2 separate regions of the Homo sapiens genome follow, and region 2 is linked to region 1. The links come from fine-mapping of genetic effects on gene expression. Tissue or cell type: whole blood. Region 1 holds a variant in brackets; the other region holds the start of a gene. All regions are shown on one strand. Distances are between the middles of the regions.

The links. PIP is the estimated chance that this variant, and not a neighbour inherited with it, causes the effect.
Region 2: it holds the start of VEGFA, and the variant in region 1 is fine-mapped to the expression of VEGFA in whole blood (TOPMed, PIP above 0.99).

Annotation. Positions count from the first base shown.
Region 1 is chr6:43,724,085-43,726,839 of GRCh38, forward strand. No RefSeq gene overlaps it. Among named protein-coding and RNA genes, the nearest start is that of MRPS18A, 38 kb to the left of the region's middle. RefSeq lists an enhancer at 857-946. The variant C/A (reference allele first, on the strand shown) is at 1,178.
Region 2 is chr6:43,768,566-43,771,320 of GRCh38, forward strand. VEGFA (vascular endothelial growth factor A) reads left to right here and starts at 1,646. Exons shown (of 8, transcript NM_003376.6): 1 at 1,646-2,747. The coding sequence starts at 2,142. RefSeq lists silencers at 1,459-1,708, 2,086-2,755 and an enhancer at 2,071-2,755.

The DNA.
Region 1 (2,755 bases):
TTCGTAACTGGGATACAGGTCTTGGACCAGTTCTGGGGAGAAGGATTGGGATTGGACTCACGCAGTGGGAGGTAGCTGCCTAGGGCATCTGCCCTTGGTGTCCTCCGGGGCCTAGGCTGTCTCTCCTCCATGGAGGCTCTTCACCAATGGGGTGTGGGCCTGGCGTGCCACCGGACTCTGAGTTCCAGCAGTGCCTAGTAAGTGCATCTTGAGATGCTCCCCTATAAAGAGCTCTGAGATTAAATGCGTTTCCTTGTCTCGTCCCTCGTCTCTGAGGGTTGTAGCCCAGATTAGCATGTTAGAGGCTCAGAGAAGTCCTGCAGTCAAGAAAACCTGTTAGACTGTGTTTAACTCAGGTTTCCTGTGCTTATTTGAGCCCGTTTGCCACAACATAGTTAGGGAAATGCTGGCTTAAGGGTGGGAAAGGGGGTGTGCTTGATACATTAACCTTCCCCAAGAGCATTTGCCCTCCCAACACACTCCCTCCTCCACCCATTGCAAGTAGTGTGTGACACATGTCTGTTGTAGAAAAGTGGGGGAAAAAACTACAAAGAAGAAAGTTACCCATCCCCTGCCTCCAGAAGAAAGTTACCCATCCCCTGCCTCCTGCTCCTTAGTCTCTTCTCAAAAGAGCTCTGGCCACTGTCCTCGGTCTTCCTGGAGAAAGGGTGATGATGGAGCTCCCCTCAAGGCACACCCACTTCTACTGGGGAGAAGCCCCAAGAGGAAAGGGCCCTTTTAGAGGTCATCTTATCCACCCCTCCGTCTCCTCTCTGTGCAGATTCTTGCTTCCCTCTCTTGCTGACATTCCTACAGGAAGGGAGATGGTGGTGGTGGTTTGGAGGGTGTTGAGGGGCGCAGAGGGCAATTGGGTATGTAGATCATCAGGGTGGAAGGTGAGCTTCCTTTCTAGGTGGGGAAACAGGCTCAGAGAGGGGCCATGACTTACTGGTGTTTCACAATGAGCCAGTGGTGGAGCTCACAGATCCTGGCCCCAGACCAGGCACCCTCCTCCCCCTAACCCCCATCTCCAGCTCTCAATGCCAAGAGTCTGGAGCGGGCCCTGTGCACTCCAGGCAAGGCTGCGGTTTCTTCTGTGGGACTGTGGAGCCACCCAGGGTGTGTGGGTGCTGCGCACGCGCACCACAGTTGTGTAACAGGCTCTGGGGCGTGTGCA[C/A]GCGCTCAGTAACCTGATGCAACAGGGAAGCTGTGGTCCCGTGAGCTGGGGTGTGGGCGCTTGGCCGGTGCCCAAACCACAAAGAGTATTTGGCTGGTGGCTAAGGAGGCCAGGCATGGGGGTCGCAGAGTTGTCTACGTCAGGGCTTGTCTATCCCTAGTTGCCCACATCCTGGTCCCTGTGGGCGCAGGGCTGGGAATGGGGCTGCCTGGCCAGGTGATACTGTGGAGGAGGGGTTGGGGCCTTGCCCCTTCCTCCTTCTGTTTGCCACGATGCCTATTGTGATGAGGATGGGGGGCAGGCGGGGCTTCCTCCCTGTGGTTCCATCTCTTCCTGGCTGTAACCCCCCAACCCAGTTCTGTACCCTGCTCTCTCCACCAATCCTGGAGCCCTCACCACAGATCCAGGTCATTTTACACAGCAATATCTGCCTCTCACTCCCCCACCTCCCCTGAGTCTCACAGCCCTGCCCTCCCTACATAATAGGCTTTCCTGGGCACCCCAAATTGGGAGAAGCAGAACGGGGAAGGAGAAGAAGAGTGGCCACTTTGCAGCCAGCCCAGATGCTGACTTTCCGCTGCCACTTCTGAACTGAGTGACTGAGAAAGATCAGTGTCCCTTCTCAGCCTCCATGTACTCATCTAAGAGGTGGGGGCAGTGATACTCCCTGCTGAGAGTGGTGGAAAGATAGTGTGCTCCTGTGAACAGGAGTCCTGAACTCTTGAACTCTAGGGTCTAGGAAAGAACTCCATGAAAGGGGAGTTGCCCCTTCATTCTGCTCCATGTGGATTGAGTGTTAGGGCACCCGCCCTCCTCCCAACTCCCCAGCATTTCTATCACCAGACAGGGTGGCAGGCACTTTGGAGAGCCAGGGTCCTGGGAGGAGGTGGCCCATGAAAGCAGGCCCTATTCTGCCTGCCTGTGGCCACCTGTGTACCCTCTCTCCCCTCTTGTCCGCAGGGAGGTGGGGCACATGCATTTCTTCTGCCCCTCTCCACTTGCTCCAGCACTTCAGAAAGGCAACATCCTTGGGGGTGGCCAGTGGGTTCCAGGGATGCAGGGTTAGGTGACGCAGGGAGGGCATCTATGCCCAGTGTCCTGACTCTCTTCCCTGGCTGGGCTGTACCTGGCACGTTGGGGCTCCTCTCCAGTGCTCCCAGGATGCCCTGGATCTACATTGCCTTATTCTGCACTAACCACCTAATGTTTTGATGATCTGCTTATGCATCTACCTAAAAATAACAAATGATGCACTTTGGGAGGCCAAGGCGGGAGGATTGCTTGAGTCCAGGAGTTTGAGACCAGCCTGGGCAACATAATGAAACCCCTATCTCTACAAAAAGTAAACAAATTAGCCAGGTGTGGTGGTGCACACCTGTAGTCCCAGCTACTCAGAAGGCTGAGGTGGGAGGATTGCTTGAGCCCAGGCAGTCAAGCCTGCAGTGAGCCACGATCATGCCACTGCACTCCAGCCTGGGTGACAGAGTGAGACTCCTCCATTCCACCCTCCCCTTCCCTGGGAAAAATAAATAATTGATGACACTTACATAGTGCTCACTATGTTCCAGGCTTTACATA
Region 2 (2,755 bases), 44 kb after region 1:
TGGTTAAATTGAGGGAAATTGCTGCATTCCCATTCTCAGTCCATGCCTCCACAGAGGCTATGCCAGCTGTAGGCCAGACCCTGGCAAGATCTGGGTGGATAATCAGACTGACTGGTCCCACTCTTCCCACAGGCCTCAGAGCCCCAACTTTGTTCCCTGGGGCAGCCTGGAAATAGCCAGGTCAGAAACCAGCTAGGAATTTTTCCAAGCTGCTTCCTATATGCAAGAATGGGATGGGGCCTTTGGGAGCACTTAGGGAAGATGTGGAGAGTTGGAGGAAAAGGGGGCTTGGAGGTAAGGGAGGGGACTGGGGGAAGGATAGGGGAGAAGCTGTGAGCCTGGAGAAGTAGCCAAGGGATCCTGAGGGAATGGGGGAGCTGAGACGAAACCCCCATTTCTATTCAGAAGATGAGCTATGAGTCTGGGCTTGGGCTGATAGAAGCCTTGGCCCCTGGCCTGGTGGGAGCTCTGGGCAGCTGGCCTACAGACGTTCCTTAGTGCTGGCGGGTAGGTTTGAATCATCACGCAGGCCCTGGCCTCCACCCGCCCCCACCAGCCCCCTGGCCTCAGTTCCCTGGCAACATCTGGGGTTGGGGGGGCAGCAGGAACAAGGGCCTCTGTCTGCCCAGCTGCCTCCCCCTTTGGGTTTTGCCAGACTCCACAGTGCATACGTGGGCTCCAACAGGTCCTCTTCCCTCCCAGTCACTGACTAACCCCGGAACCACACAGCTTCCCGTTCTCAGCTCCACAAACTTGGTGCCAAATTCTTCTCCCCTGGGAAGCATCCCTGGACACTTCCCAAAGGACCCCAGTCACTCCAGCCTGTTGGCTGCCGCTCACTTTGATGTCTGCAGGCCAGATGAGGGCTCCAGATGGCACATTGTCAGAGGGACACACTGTGGCCCCTGTGCCCAGCCCTGGGCTCTCTGTACATGAAGCAACTCCAGTCCCAAATATGTAGCTGTTTGGGAGGTCAGAAATAGGGGGTCCAGGAGCAAACTCCCCCCACCCCCTTTCCAAAGCCCATTCCCTCTTTAGCCAGAGCCGGGGTGTGCAGACGGCAGTCACTAGGGGGCGCTCGGCCACCACAGGGAAGCTGGGTGAATGGAGCGAGCAGCGTCTTCGAGAGTGAGGACGTGTGTGTCTGTGTGGGTGAGTGAGTGTGTGCGTGTGGGGTTGAGGGCGTTGGAGCGGGGAGAAGGCCAGGGGTCACTCCAGGATTCCAATAGATCTGTGTGTCCCTCTCCCCACCCGTCCCTGTCCGGCTCTCCGCCTTCCCCTGCCCCCTTCAATATTCCTAGCAAAGAGGGAACGGCTCTCAGGCCCTGTCCGCACGTAACCTCACTTTCCTGCTCCCTCCTCGCCAATGCCCCGCGGGCGCGTGTCTCTGGACAGAGTTTCCGGGGGCGGATGGGTAATTTTCAGGCTGTGAACCTTGGTGGGGGTCGAGCTTCCCCTTCATTGCGGCGGGCTGCGGGCCAGGCTTCACTGAGCGTCCGCAGAGCCCGGGCCCGAGCCGCGTGTGGAAGGGCTGAGGCTCGCCTGTCCCCGCCCCCCGGGGCGGGCCGGGGGCGGGGTCCCGGCGGGGCGGAGCCATGCGCCCCCCCCTTTTTTTTTTAAAAGTCGGCTGGTAGCGGGGAGGATCGCGGAGGCTTGGGGCAGCCGGGTAGCTCGGAGGTCGTGGCGCTGGGGGCTAGCACCAGCGCTCTGTCGGGAGGCGCAGCGGTTAGGTGGACCGGTCAGCGGACTCACCGGCCAGGGCGCTCGGTGCTGGAATTTGATATTCATTGATCCGGGTTTTATCCCTCTTCTTTTTTCTTAAACATTTTTTTTTAAAACTGTATTGTTTCTCGTTTTAATTTATTTTTGCTTGCCATTCCCCACTTGAATCGGGCCGACGGCTTGGGGAGATTGCTCTACTTCCCCAAATCACTGTGGATTTTGGAAACCAGCAGAAAGAGGAAAGAGGTAGCAAGAGCTCCAGAGAGAAGTCGAGGAAGAGAGAGACGGGGTCAGAGAGAGCGCGCGGGCGTGCGAGCAGCGAAAGCGACAGGGGCAAAGTGAGTGACCTGCTTTTGGGGGTGACCGCCGGAGCGCGGCGTGAGCCCTCCCCCTTGGGATCCCGCAGCTGACCAGTCGCGCTGACGGACAGACAGACAGACACCGCCCCCAGCCCCAGCTACCACCTCCTCCCCGGCCGGCGGCGGACAGTGGACGCGGCGGCGAGCCGCGGGCAGGGGCCGGAGCCCGCGCCCGGAGGCGGGGTGGAGGGGGTCGGGGCTCGCGGCGTCGCACTGAAACTTTTCGTCCAACTTCTGGGCTGTTCTCGCTTCGGAGGAGCCGTGGTCCGCGCGGGGGAAGCCGAGCCGAGCGGAGCCGCGAGAAGTGCTAGCTCGGGCCGGGAGGAGCCGCAGCCGGAGGAGGGGGAGGAGGAAGAAGAGAAGGAAGAGGAGAGGGGGCCGCAGTGGCGACTCGGCGCTCGGAAGCCGGGCTCATGGACGGGTGAGGCGGCGGTGTGCGCAGACAGTGCTCCAGCCGCGCGCGCTCCCCAGGCCCTGGCCCGGGCCTCGGGCCGGGGAGGAAGAGTAGCTCGCCGAGGCGCCGAGGAGAGCGGGCCGCCCCACAGCCCGAGCCGGAGAGGGAGCGCGAGCCGCGCCGGCCCCGGTCGGGCCTCCGAAACCATGAACTTTCTGCTGTCTTGGGTGCATTGGAGCCTTGCCTTGCTGCTCTACCTCCACCATGCCAAGGTAAGCGG